4 linked regions of the Homo sapiens genome follow. The protein of the gene in region 3 purifies or fractionates together with the protein of the main gene of each other region. This does not show direct contact. Each region holds a gene or a part of one and is shown on either strand. Other genes may lie near its edges.

Region 1 (4,178 bases), on a different chromosome or scaffold from region 3:
ACGGTCTTGCTGTGCCACTCAGGCTGGAATGCAGTGATGCGATCATAGCTTACCACAGCCTCAAACTCAACTCCTGAGCTCAAGCAATCCTACTGATCACTTAGTAGTCTCTGAGCCTACTCTGATCCTACTGATAGTGAGGACTACACATGCATGCCACCAGGCCCAGTTTTTTTTTTTTAGAGACAAGGGTCTTGCTAAGTTGCCTAGACTGGTCTCAAACTCCTGGCCTCACACGATCCTCCTGCCTCAGCCTTCCAAAGCACTGGGATTACAGGTGTTAGCCACTGTGCCTGGCCATAAAATTCTTTTTTTGTTTTTCTTGAGACATTGTATCACTCTGTCACCCAGAATGGAATGCAGTGGCATGATCTCAGCTCACTGCAACCTCCACCTCCCCGGTTCAAGCTATTCTGCCACATTAGTTACCAGGTACTTGGCACATTTGTTAACTGTTGGCTTTTTCTTTCAAGTCAGTACAGTCTCTGGTTCTGGATATACCTGCCTCATGTAGGGTTCCCAGAGTTACAAAAACGAAGAATAACTGTCAAGCAACTTTACACTGTTCTGCTGGCATCTAACAAAAAGAGCATTAGAGATTTCCAGAGAGCACACACGTGTATTCCTTCCTTCCTCAAATCCCACTAAAAGAAGATAAAGATAGATAAAGGGAAATAAAATCCGTACCAGGAGAAGGAATAAATGCCACCAGTGAATGACAGATGGTAACCAACTTCAGGAAAATGAAAAGTTGTTGGAATATTGACCTACAAACCAGAGTAGGACAAAGTAAAATAAGAATATGCACCAAGGCCGGGCGCGGTGGCTCACGCCTGTAATCCCAGCACTTTGGGAGGCCGAGACGGGCGGATCACGAGGTCAAGAGTTCAAGACCAGATCAGCCTAACCAAGATGGTGAAACCCTGTCTCTACTAAAAATACAAAAAAAATTAGCCGGGCGTGCGCGCGCCAGTAATCTCAGCTACTCAAGAGGCTGAGGCAGAAGAATCGCTTGAACCCAGGAGGCGGAAGTTGCAGTGAGCCGAGATCGCGCCACTGCGCTCCAGCCTGGGCGACAGAGCGAAACTCCTTCTCAAAAAAAAAAAAAAAAAAAAAAACGCATTAGGGAGAAATGCTATTCCTACAAGCTGAGCCGAGCTAGAGGTTTCAAGCTTGAAGTCAGTGGGCCCAAGGATCATAAACTGGCAGCGCGACAATAACCATGGAAATCACTCAGTCCTCCTCCCTCCCCAATCTCCAAGCAAAAAGTCCAAAATAGTTATGTTTGTCTCCAAGATAAAATCAAAAGTTTTTTAGAAATGAAGGGGTAGGACCCCTACTGTGAATACTGGTGTTAAGAGTACACAGCAGAAACTTAGGCTTAATAATTTTACAGTTCACACGGAGGAAATAAACAGCTATACTCAGCAGAGAAGTTGCTCCACCACTACTGCAAAGCCTGAAGCAAAAGGCAGGTTCCCAGTCTACCCATCTGGTACCTGCTCACATGCCCTCAACTGAAACCTTCCTATCTAGGCAACCTGGTACAGAGCCAAAAGTCAATTAGCGACCCATGTACTGAAAACAAGACCTATTACTCATATTAATCAAAATATAGACAGATAACCAGTGCCCATCACATGTTCGAGAAAAAGCAACAGAAGGAAACAGGACCAAAAAGACACAGAACAATTGACCAACAGTAAGTAAATTATTTAGGAAATAGATTTTTCTAATTATCATCTTTGTAGATTCAAGACTTTTAATATCTATAAAATAAGAAAAGGCTGCTGCACCTAGGACCCTGTGTTTACTAACTCAAAGAATAAAAACTGGAGAAGGGAAGAACAGAAGGAGGCAGTGTAAGACACCATAAATCCCTAAATTTAACCACAATAGACAAATTATTAAAAAAAAGGAGGTAGATAGTAAATATAATATATTGTCCACCCTGGAAAGGGGACAGGGGGAATAGTGATTTTACTTTTCATTTTACATTTTCAAGTTGTTTTAACTATGTACATGTATTAATACTAATAATAATGTTTTAAGTATTAACCATAAAAAAATGGCACGGGACACCACCACCCCAAACAATTGCTATTTAAACTCTCTCGTGATACTAACAATGATTTACAGAGAATGGCAAATTTCAAAATCAGAAGTCAAGAAGGGTCCCTGCCACTCGTTTTCCTCAAAAGGCAGATAAAATATTTTAGAGCCTTTTTGAAAACTTGTATATGACTATAAAAACCCGAGAGGCAAAGCAAAGCCTACAGAATACGCCAGAAAAAAAAGCTGCTTCCCACCCCCAACTCAAGGTCTAGGGCAAAGGAGCCGGTAGTAGGAGGGTGGAATACCTGAACGCCTGGATGCCGCGGCAGCGCGAGGACCTGATAGTCACAGAGGCCAAGGCCAGAGAGAGAGACACCGCGGCTAAAGCCTTTCCCAGGAGGCGTCCCGCCATGAGCGCCCCGAGGGCGGCTTTGCGATGCTAGGTCGCTCTTAGTTGGTGCCTCCGCCTCCCCACACCCCACAGCTCCGAGTCCCGGCCGCGGGTATCTGATGGGCACTAGGACCTGTCTGCCGTTGGGTTCCCGAACGGGAGTAGCTGTGCCTATCTATAAATCACAGATCAAGAGCCCTCCCACGATAAGAGTCCACCGCTTTCCCCAGTGCATCGAGAAAAATCCAGACCAGCACGTGACGCCGAAGCCTCCAGCGCCAGCTGCCTGGGGAAACCGCGGCCACGAACCTCGTAACTTTCTCTCTGCGTAATGGCGCTTTACGGCCGCGCCGCAAAGCAAAGGTCGTGCGTTGCCGGCTTGGTAGCGCCTTCCTTCTCCGACTTCCCAGACTTCCCAGTCTGCGCAGGCTTACTTGGGGACGCAGGGAACTACCAAGAAAGTGTCAGAGGAAAGGAAAGGTGAAACAGACGAGGAACTGGAACGGGAATAAGTGGGAAAGAAGCCAAGGGGTTTGAGAGAGACTTGCTGCCCTGGGTTTTTGGTTTTTGTTTTTTGAGACAAGAGTCTGGCTCTGTCGCCCAGGCTGCAGTGCAGGGGCGCGATTTCAGCTCATTGCCGCCTCAACCTCCTGGGCTTAAGCGAGTCTCTTGTCTCAGCCCCCGACGTAGCTGGGACTACAGGCACACACCGCCATACCTGGCTAATTTTTGTATGTTTTGTAGCGACAGATTTTTGCCATGTTGCCCAGGCTGGTCTCCAACTCTCAAGCTCAAATAATCCAACTGTTTGGGCCTCCCACAGTGCTGAGGTTACAGGCCTCAGCCAACGCGCCTGGCCCTGCTCTGGTTTTTTTAGGGAGTAAGTTGTTGCGGAAGGACGCAGGTCTTAGCCATATTTTTGAATAATACTTCGTTATGGGAATGAAACCGCCTTTGCAAAATTATGACTGATTTGGGAGGCCGAGGCGGGATCACTTGCAGTCAGGAGTTCAAGACCAGCCTGGCCAACGTGGTGAAACCTCGTCTCTACTAAAAATACAAAAATTAGCTGGGCATGGTGGTAAACGCGCCTGTAGTCCCAGCTGCTCAGGAGGATGAAGCAGGAGAATCGCTTGAACCCGGGAGGTGGAGGTTGCAGTGAGCCAACGTCGCACCACTGCACTCCACCCTGGGCGACAAGAGTGAAACTACGTATCAAAAAAAAAAAGAAAAAACCTCTGCTCCCTGAATGCTCAGGGAGACTGATTTGAGTAATAATAGAACTCCGGTCTCACACAGCTGGCTCTGCATGAATTACTCTTTCTCTATTGCAATTCCCCTGTCTTGATGAATCAGCTCTGTCTAGGAAGCGGGAAAGGTGAACCCCTTGGGCGGTTACAGCAAGAGGAGATAGTCCAGAGACTCAGCCCTCGTATCTTGAAGGGTTTCTTGGTTTTTTGTTTTTGTTTTCTTAACCAAGTTGTCTGCTCCAATTGCTGGATTTCATTCACAAGGCTTTGCTAGGACCAGTTGTGGCCCTTGGAAACTCGTGGAGGAGAAAAGCTGTGAAAATAGGCACACATGCTGGAGGAGGAACAGAGGGCAACACACATAATACTGGATAATAAACTTGAGAGGCAAAAATTAAACAAACCGACAAACAAAGTTGGAAACCCAGACTGTCCAAAGCAGCTTGTAATCAGGCTTACTTCATTTATATTAGCTTATTGAT
Region 2 (3,500 bases), on a different chromosome or scaffold from region 3:
AAAAATGCAATGGGGTTATAATATACAACCATTAAGACTATTCTCCAAACATACACATACATACATTAGAGCATCTTTAAAAGAGCATGAAAACTCCACTATAAAGGAATTATGACATACAGAAACCAAAATAGCTTCTATGGAAATAAAACCAAGTCCCAAAATACCAATAATACTTTACATTTGAAAACCCTTAATGTTTATAGGCAATGTTCTGTCACATAAACCGTTGGATTTGATCTTTGAGCAAAAGGTATTCCAGCCTTTGCTTTTGTTTGTAAACAGAAAAAGAAAACTGCAGTACCTCTGGTCTTTTCTTTTCATATTGATATCACACATGAGGAAAGAGGAAGACAATGATGAGCTATCTACTAACCACCTGCATGTACAATCATGAAGACCACGAAGGATCACTGAAGGAGCAGAATCAGGAGCTGGGGGACCGGGGCCCCAGCTGCGTAAGCCTGGCCTGTCATTGGACCTGAGTGCCCCTGTGGGTAGAGGGACTTTGCCTATTTGTTCACACTGAATCCCAGCCCTATAACACGGCCTGGCACATAGAAGAGCTTCAAAAATGCTTGTTGACTCAAAGACAAAGCAAACCACTTCACAAGGCAGCAGTAGGAATTATGTATGAAAGATGTACCTGATACAAAAAGGGCACTTAATATTAATTTAATCTGAGTATTAAGGCTAATTTCACTTTTATTTTAAATACATTTGACTTATAATCTCCAAAAAAAAATCAATAATCTCTTTCCAAAGCCGATGGCATATCAGTAACTCTAATGAAATTTCAAGATCACTGTACATTATATGTATGGAAATATCACTCTGGACCCCAAGAATATGTACAACTATTATTTGTCAATTAAAAAAATAAGAATTTCAACAAATTTTTAACTTTATTTTGAAGTCAGATCTAAGATAAATAACATTTAAATCATTTTTCTGAGAACTTCTATAATACAAGTTGTCCAATGTGTAAATTTAAAGTCCTTTCTTAAGAGGAAATATAAATATACACTACTTGAGCAGACAGTATGTGATAAATGAAATTTAGTTTTATAAACTCAAAAGAAATTCTTCTAAAAGTATATGTATACACATATATGTATAAGTATATATACATATATGCATAAATACATATTACATAAGATGATTTAAAATATCAAGCAACCCATTAGAGTATAAACAAACGTGAAAAGTAACTGGTAGAAACACTAGACAGTTTTACATAAGAGGAAGGAAGGACTCGATGACAGACCCCTAAGCTTCTGTGAGTCTGTAAGCACTGGATCTTTTTTCCCTCCATCAATTCCTGAATATCTTCACCCCTGGAGAGTCAATTTAAACATTTTATATATAAATTGGTTTGAGTTCATTGACAGAAATACCTGTTCCTCCAGTGAGAGCTCCCTTGGCTATATCACCGTTTCTCTGATCACTGGTTTTCTACGAAGAAGAAAAAAAGAGGACTTTTAAAAATTAGAGTTACAAGTGAAAATGAAAAAGATAAAAGCATACAAAAGTAGTTAGAAAACGGCCATGTCAATACCTTATCTGTAGCTTCTGTTCTCCTGGTTCTTTTCATAATCTCCTCAAGTCGCTATAGGAAAGGAAGAATTGAGCAAGAAGATTAGACACAGAAAAAAAGCCAGCCTGGCATATTTAACTGATGAAATAGATTATTTAAAATGGTCTGTTATTTTGGAAAAATACAATATGCACTTTTTTTTTTTTTTTTGAGATGGAGTCTTGCCCTGTCACGCAGGCTGGAGTGCCGTGTGGCAAGCTCTCAGTTCACTGTAGCCTCTGCCTCCTGGGCGCAAGCTGCCTCAGTCTCCCAGGTAGCTGGGATTACAGGCGCCCGCCACCACGCCCAGCTAATTTTTACATTTTTAGTAAAGACAGGGTTTCACCATGTTGGCCAGGCTGGTCTCGAACTCCTGACTTCGGTGATCTACCTGCCGTGGCCTCCCAAAGTGCTGGGATTACAGGCATGAGCCACCCGGCCCAGCAGTGCTGCTTTGTCTTAACTGGGGTTATTCAAGAAAGTTGGAACTGCCTTAAGCTACATGAAGTGGAAGTAAGTGTTTTTTGGTGACGGCTAAAACACCGAGAGAGATTTCTTTGCAGGAGATTGTTATCACTGAGGGGGCTACTAGTTTATGTGGCAAGGGTAGAACACGCGTTTTCTGACGGCCAGGGCTAGTCTCTGGGTCTTAGAGGTGCAAGTTCGCGTCCCGGGCCTCTCTACTAAGACGCAGCTACCTTCTTTCTCTCCAGGCGCTCTTGCTCTTCTCTCTGGAAATGCTTCTCTCGTTCCTGCCGGACCCTCTCTGCTTCTTCACGAACGCGAGCTTCTTCTTCTTTCTGAAAACAGAAGGTCGGCGTCTGCCTCTGACAAACAGGCGGGCTGCCCGGGTCTCCCAGGGGGTGCCCAGAGGTGGGGGCGAGGTGGCGGATGGAGAAGGTGTGGAAAGCGGGAGCACCAGCAGTCCAGTCCGCACCCTCCTCTGCTGGGCTGGGGCGTCTCCCTGCGGGACTGGGGCCGGGGCCAGGGTGGGGTGCGGCCGCACCTGCCTCTGGGCGCGCTCTGCCTCCTCCCGCTCGCGCAGCGCCCGCTCCTCCGCCTGCCGCTGCAGCTGCTCCTCCTTCTCCCGGGCCTGCTCGGCTTCCAGCCTGCGCGACTCCTCCTCACGGCGAGTCGTCCTCTCTTCAGCCACACGTTGAGCCAATTCCTCTCTCTTTTGTCTGGAAAAAGACAGAACAAAACCAAAACCAAAGACACCTGAGGAGAAATCTTTGAAGAGAGGCCTCCGTCGGTGGTTCTGTAGGGCGGTTCCTTTAGGCGTCCAGTAGAAAAATCCCCACTGGATGCCTTCACCACTGCTAAGGGACAAAGCGCGAAGCCACCCTTAGACTTCCTCCCGCCTTGCCAGCTGCATTGCTGTCCGTGCTAAATAGAAGCAACGTGTAACCACCAATATCTTGGGGAGAGCTGGCTTTTTGGAAGGAATTTAACTATTTTTTAAAGGCTCTGACTTGTTTAATTCAAATAATGTGACTTCTTAGTAATGAATTTGAAGCACCCCAGCCAAAGGGAATCTTTGTAAATAAATAAGGGTCACAGTGTTCTGTCACAGGACAGGAGGAAGACAGCCATGTAAGCTCCCTGTTGGAGCCAAGGGAAAGGCATGGCCAAGATGGCGGTCCAGCGAGTGCATGAGATCCTTCCCCAGGGTACAGTTGTGTTCGTTTGAAGAACAATTATATTGACATTCGTCTTATTAGGCCCAGAAGATGACCAATTAAACAAACTGTTTCTGGAATACTGCCTGGCAGGCAATCATGGGGCATGTAAAGATCCCACCTGGCTACCCTCCGAGAGGAGTTTTATCTGGAAAGGAGAAAACATGAACCCTTATTATGCAGCCTTAATGTGATAATTACAAAGATAAAACGGAAACCTGGAGATTGGAGATGTGTTAAGTAAA
Region 3 (2,333 bases):
ATGGCATTAGCATAGCTGAGCCTTGAACAACACAGGTTTGAAGAGTTTTGCTTCTTCGCAGATTTTCTTCCACCTCTGCCACCCTTGAGAGAGCAAGACCTACTCTTCCTCTTACTACTCCCACTAAGCCTACCCAACATGAAAACAATGAGGATGAAGACCTTTACGATGATTCACTTCCACCTAATGAATAGCAAATATATCTTCTTTCTTACGATTTCCTTAATAACATTTTCATTTCTTTAGCTTGTAAGAAGAGTATATAATACATATAACATAAAACATGTGCGAATTGACTATGTTATTGGTCAGGCTACCAGTCAACAGGAGGCTATTAGTGATTAAGTTTTGGGAGAGTCAAAAGTTATACAAGGATTTGAAACTGCATGCAGTAAGGAGGAGTTGGGGCCCCTAGCCCTAATGTTGTTCAAGGATCAACTGTACTAAGAAATATATGCGTTTTCCTATATTATCCTGGCAACAAAAAATATAAATATTTCTTAGTCTTATTTAATAATAAAATTTATTAGCAGATCTCTTGTAAGACAGTTGAAGAATTCATACATTTTCCAGCCCCAAAAAGGCCACACAGAATCACAAACATTCAACGTGTTCCACGATAATGATATGTATGAGATGCTCTTCCTTATAAACTTTATTACGAAGCAAATAAAATAATACATTCATAATATATGAACAAAGAAATCATACATTAAGAATCCTGTTGTGATTTGCTCTTAAGAGCAAAGAGCTGCAGAATCTCTAATATAAAAAAGAGGACATTTTCAATGTGTCCATTTTCCTAAGAAACGTGTGTATGAAATGCCTCCAAGTTTCTCATACTATATATACTTGCTTTAAAGAAGGAAATTATTTCTCATTTCATTTTCCAAATGAGAAACATTGCCTAAATTCATGACATCCCTAGGATTATTCTTAGTCTCAACTTCCACACAGAGATGTCTGAAATAGAAAACTCTTAAGTATCAGAATTCAGGGATATAAGCTTTCACATTCAAAAGTGCAGAGAATCCCAACATTAACAAACAATGGTTCCACAAAAATCAAAATTACAACTTAGACATCTCTAAAATAATAGTAATGTCACTTTAGAGTTTACAAACTACAGAAATAACTGAATTGTAACACATGCAGAGATTATTTCAAGTGCTTCTAAATACCTATTAGAAAAATGTGTATCTATTTGACAATATTATGTTCTCTGGAGAAAGATATATAAGGATTACAGCAGAGACTTCAGTATTGACAAAGTAAAATTTTTACCTTCAAGTTGCATTCTAAAATTACTATGAAGTCTCAACTTCACTGAATTAATGAAAATAAAATATATTCCACGACAGATTTTTGTGGCACAAATGAAAACTTTAAAAAATACATGAAACAAAAACAAGATGAGAGATTTCCTGATACATATAATACTATTTATATTCCCTTATCTCAATACTTGGAAACTCAATGTCCTATTTTGTAAACTAGTCATATAAAATGACACTAGAAGTATAAATGAGGTTTAATCAATTGACTCTGACAATCTGCCATCTCACCATTCATCACTGACAGCATCCAAAACATGTTATCATCTGCCCACGAGGTAGGGTGCAGAGTGGAGAAGACTAAGGCACGGGTAACTGCCACACAGTGGCAAAGTGCCGACCAGTGGCATGGGGAGCACACATCGTGTGCCCTCCAAACCCCTGCACAGCCATTCTGCCTGCATCAACGCACCCAGTCCCTTGGATGGCGTAGAACTTCCAGAATTTCAGCTTCTTTGGAATTCTCTGAGGGTGAATGCATGTACTCCCATCTATGCATGTCCAAAACAAAAGCAAAAAACGTCATAAAAAATGACACACATACCTCTTTACTTAAAATAAATGAAAAATAAAATCCTAAGAATAAAAAAAAAAAAAGCCTTATACTTCTTTGTCTCTACTGTGCCTGATGTGCCTTGTACCAACTTGACCTTTAAAAAAACTATTTGCCAAACAAATAGTTTCTTAACAACTCTTGGGTATGCTTTGGCTAGTATTAATATCCCAGAGCCAAAATACACCTTTAATATAAACCAGGGTTTCATATAGTGTAGAAACTCAGGTGATCCATGGGCAAACCTTCTTTAGCTTAATACTTATGCATACCTCTTCTCAGAAAAACAAATAGGCAGAGAAGGTCCATCTCACCTCCTAGCCACCATGACTCAGCCTGTGTTCTCTCTCCCTCTAGTCTCTCCTTGCCCTCATAGAGCTGTGGGATTCACCATGTCACCGCTTAAAATACCCAATTTGATTTGCCTTATTTGACTGTGATTTTCT
Region 4 (3,500 bases), about 95 Mb from region 3:
AGGCTACCTATAAAGGAAATATAGAAATCTCTTTAATAATGAAGATTTTCAACCTTAGTCATAAATCCTTTTTTTGTTCTTTGAGGCGGATTCTCACTTTGTCACCCTGGTTGGAGTGCAGTGGTGCAATCTCAGCTCACTGCAGCCTCCCAGGTTCAGGTGATTCTCCTGCTTCAGCCTCCCAAGTAGACCTGCCACTACACACAGCTAATTTTTGTATTTTTAGTAGAGACAGGGTTTCGGCAAGTGGGCCAGGCTGGTCTCGAACTCCTGACATCAAGTGATCTGCATGCCTCAGCCTCCCAAAGTGCTAGGGTTACAGGCATAAGCCACCATGCCCGGCCAGTAAATACCCATTTCCAAGATAGCGTCTTTCAGATCGGCAACGATGCAAACACTTGATAACAGTGTTAGCAAGGGTGTGGTTAAATGGGCAGTCCTGTTCATTACAGATCAGGAGACTTCACTGTAGAGCCTTTAAAACTTTGTGAATTTTGAACCATGTTAATCTATTAGCCATTCACAAAAATGGTAATAAACAAATGTTCTCATATGTTGAATGAAAAAAGTGACATAAAACTAATTTTATATATATGTACATAAAACCTCAAGTATTAATTAGTAGAGTGACCACTTCATACTGGTTTGCCTGAGACATTCCTAGTTTTAAAGTTGAAAATCATACATCCAAGGAAGTATTTCAAGCTCAGGCAAACTAAGACAGTTGGTTACCATGGAGACTTAAAAAAATAGAAAAAGGAATTTAGAGCCGAAACACAGACACCATTCAGCTCACCAAATGGGGAGGTCAGTGATCTATGAGATACTTCACTCTGTAGCATTACAGAAAAGAGGCACTGACAACTACTTATCAAAAATACCTCTTGGCTGTGTTTGAACTTGAATGTTCTCTGATTATCCCAAAAGCAACAGTACATTGGTAAGTTCACACTTAATGCTTAACTCTTTCCAAGCTGTTAATAGTTTTATATGCATAGTAACTTTTAAAAGGGAACCATCTTGACATACATGGCAAATTTCGAAGGCTCCAGATTCAAAAAGACATAAAAGAAAATGATAAAAAGAAAATATGTAAATAGGCAAAAATATGATCACAAAGTAGCAAATAATATGGTATATCCATCTTGGTGTTATTTCTCCTAATGAAGAGACTTGTAACCGTCCCTGGGGAACCTAAAGGCAAGATCAAAATTTGGAGGAAAAAATCATAGGAATATGATCAAAGCAAAAATAAGCGTTTGGGAAGCAAAGTAACCAACCATAAATGCCAGAACTATGAATGCTTGATCCAATAAGGCTTGGAAAAAGCCAGGATAGAAAACTACACAAAGCTTAGTAAGCATCATACTGGTGTGTATTTTGTTTTGCTCTGAATATCATCCTTTTAAAATACAGTAAATAAAAATATGAAATATGGTTGAGTTGCAGGGAATAATGTAGTGGTTAAGAATGTGACCTCTGGAGTCAGGCTGCCTGAGTTGGAATTCTGATCCTACACTTTACAAGCTGTGCAACTTTGGGCAAGTTACCATCGGTTAAATAGCAGTATCTGCTTCGCAGGGTTGTCAGGAGATTAAATTTACATAATGTGCTCAGAACAGTGCCTGACATGTTATAAGGGTTCAGTAAATGTCAGAAAATGATAGTACCAATAGGAACAACTTTTATTTTATAAACTAGGACACTGAAAAAGAGTATTAGTTTCTCTCTTTCAGTATGCTTATGAGAAGCCAGTTAGACAAGACTCTATATTGCACTATTTGGAGCAGCTTCCTCTATGAGTAAATATGAGAATAAATAAATACCTGGAGCTCTGACTACATTAACTGAGAGAAAAATGCACCAATTGGGCTCTCTATGGTCATATATTGCCTAGGCCTTGGAAACAAGCCAAAATCATGGTTCTCTGTGACTTAAACTAAGTTACTTAATATCTCTCAGTCTCAAGTTTCCTCTTCTATCAAGTGGGCTTAACATACTTTATGAAGTTTTTCTGAGAGTTTAATGAAATAAAGTATATCAGGTACCCAATGTTGTACCTAGAACCCAGTAGGTACCCTAGAAATTGTATCTGTCATTACTGTAATCAGCAAGAGATGCCACCTTAGCTTATAAACTTCTTGCCCATCTATGCATGAAGCAAATCCTATTACTTCATCCTTTTACCACTACTATTGCTACAAACTAGGTTATGAACAGTGGATGTTTCATCCTTTTTTAATCCAAAATCTTAAACATAAAGGGCTTGTCTTAACTTTAAAGTACAACATATGATGCATCAGTAATGTATCAAAACACTAACCTAATTCGTATCTAGCCCCCATATAATTCCCAGTGCTTTCATTAAACAAAAAAGTTAAGCTGAAATAAATAGGTTTCATCTTACATACCAACTCTGATTATTGATGATTCCTAGAATACAATGCTAAAAAAGAATCTGAGGTTGTGTGTAGGCTCAGCAGTAAAAAGTGCTGAAGTCATTCACCATTGTTTGCCAGGGAAGCAGAAGAAAGATTGAATAAACATGCATGAAAGATAGTGCAAAGGAAAAAGAATGATCCTGGGTGTGTGTGTGTGTAGATGTGTGTGGAGTATGTACATGTACCATGTGTGTGTGCACTTCTCTTCCCTGAAATCATGTTTATATGCAGTTAAGAAGTTAGCACTGACTGAGTGTGTACATGTGTCAGGCACTGTTCTAAGCATTTACAATTAACTCTCTTAAACCTCACAACAGCGGTACAAAGGAAGCCAATATTAATTAACGTTTTTGTTTTGTGGCTAGTGAGTGACGGAGTCAGAATTTGAACCCAGGGATTTTGGCTCCAGAGTCTATTCTTTTTTTTTGAGATGGAGTCTCGCTCTGTTGCCCAGACTGGAGTGCAGTGGCACAATCTCAGCTCACTGCAAGCTCCGCCTCCCGGGTTCACACCATTCTCCTGCCTAACAGCTGGGACTACAGGCAGCCGCCACCACGCCCGGCTAATTTTTTATATTTTTAGTAGAGATGGGGTTTCACCGTGTTAGCCAGGATGGTCTCGATCTCCTGACCCCATGATCCGCCTGCCTTGGCCTCCCAAAGTGCTGGGATTACAGGCGTGACCCACCGTGCCCGGCTGAGGGACTATTCTTTGAAGCAATCTGCTAAACCATCTCTTAGAAGAAATTAATGCAACTTCTCAAGTTGAAGAACATTTCCAGAATGTAGGTTTTACTTGAAAAGAAGGCATTCTGATAGACTCACAATATGGTTTTATCTGCAAATATTACCTAAAAACATAGAATTTATAGTGAGATCTCTGCGTTCCGCATCTTTCTGCCAGTCAGTTGTAAATTCTACCTCAGCATGTCTTCCATCAGTGGTGACATCAATCCGTAGTGTAGTAATCTCAAAATTTTCTTCATGAAGCTGCAATTAAATACATGGGGTTTTTGTTGTCATTTAAATTAGGTTTTCATACTACTGAATTGAAAAAAAT

Evidence for each region.
Region 1: the proteins of CPOX (region 3) and NUDT9 fractionate together in Homo sapiens (co-fractionation; one large-scale study listed by BioGRID). This does not show direct contact.
Region 2: the proteins of CPOX (region 3) and MAP7 fractionate together in Homo sapiens (co-fractionation; one large-scale study listed by BioGRID). This does not show direct contact.
Region 4: the proteins of CPOX (region 3) and TRNT1 fractionate together in Homo sapiens (co-fractionation; one large-scale study listed by BioGRID). This does not show direct contact.

Annotation. Positions count from the first base shown.
Region 1 is NC_000004.12:87,421,195-87,425,372, reverse strand, and holds the start of NUDT9 (ADP-ribose pyrophosphatase, mitochondrial isoform a precursor), read right to left. Parts: upstream 2,801-4,178; 5' UTR 2,468-2,800; coding exon 2,361-2,467; intron 1-2,360.
Region 2 is NC_000006.12:136,358,423-136,361,922, forward strand, and holds part of MAP7 (ensconsin), read right to left. Parts: intron 2,758-3,500; coding exon 2,583-2,757; coding exon of another isoform or gene 2,514-2,582; intron 2,377-2,513; coding exon 2,275-2,376; intron 1,610-2,274; coding exon 1,559-1,609; intron 1,456-1,558; coding exon 1,398-1,455; intron 1-1,397. UniProt on the Homo sapiens protein: Microtubule-stabilizing protein that may play an important role during reorganization of microtubules during polarization and differentiation of epithelial cells. Associates with microtubules in a dynamic manner.
Region 3 is NC_000003.12:98,578,946-98,581,278, forward strand, and holds the end of CPOX (oxygen-dependent coproporphyrinogen-III oxidase, mitochondrial precursor), read right to left. Parts: intron 1,826-2,333; coding exon 1,738-1,825; 3' UTR 501-1,737; downstream 1-500. UniProt on the Homo sapiens protein: Catalyzes the aerobic oxidative decarboxylation of propionate groups of rings A and B of coproporphyrinogen-III to yield the vinyl groups in protoporphyrinogen-IX and participates to the sixth step in the heme biosynthetic pathway.
Region 4 is NC_000003.12:3,140,440-3,143,939, reverse strand, and holds part of TRNT1 (CCA tRNA nucleotidyltransferase 1, mitochondrial), read right to left. Parts: intron 3,431-3,500; coding exon 3,292-3,430; intron 1-3,291. UniProt on the Homo sapiens protein: Nucleotidyltransferase that catalyzes the addition and repair of the essential 3'-terminal CCA sequence in tRNAs, which is necessary for the attachment of amino acids to the 3' terminus of tRNA molecules, using CTP and ATP as substrates. tRNA 3'-terminal CCA addition is required both for tRNA processing and repair.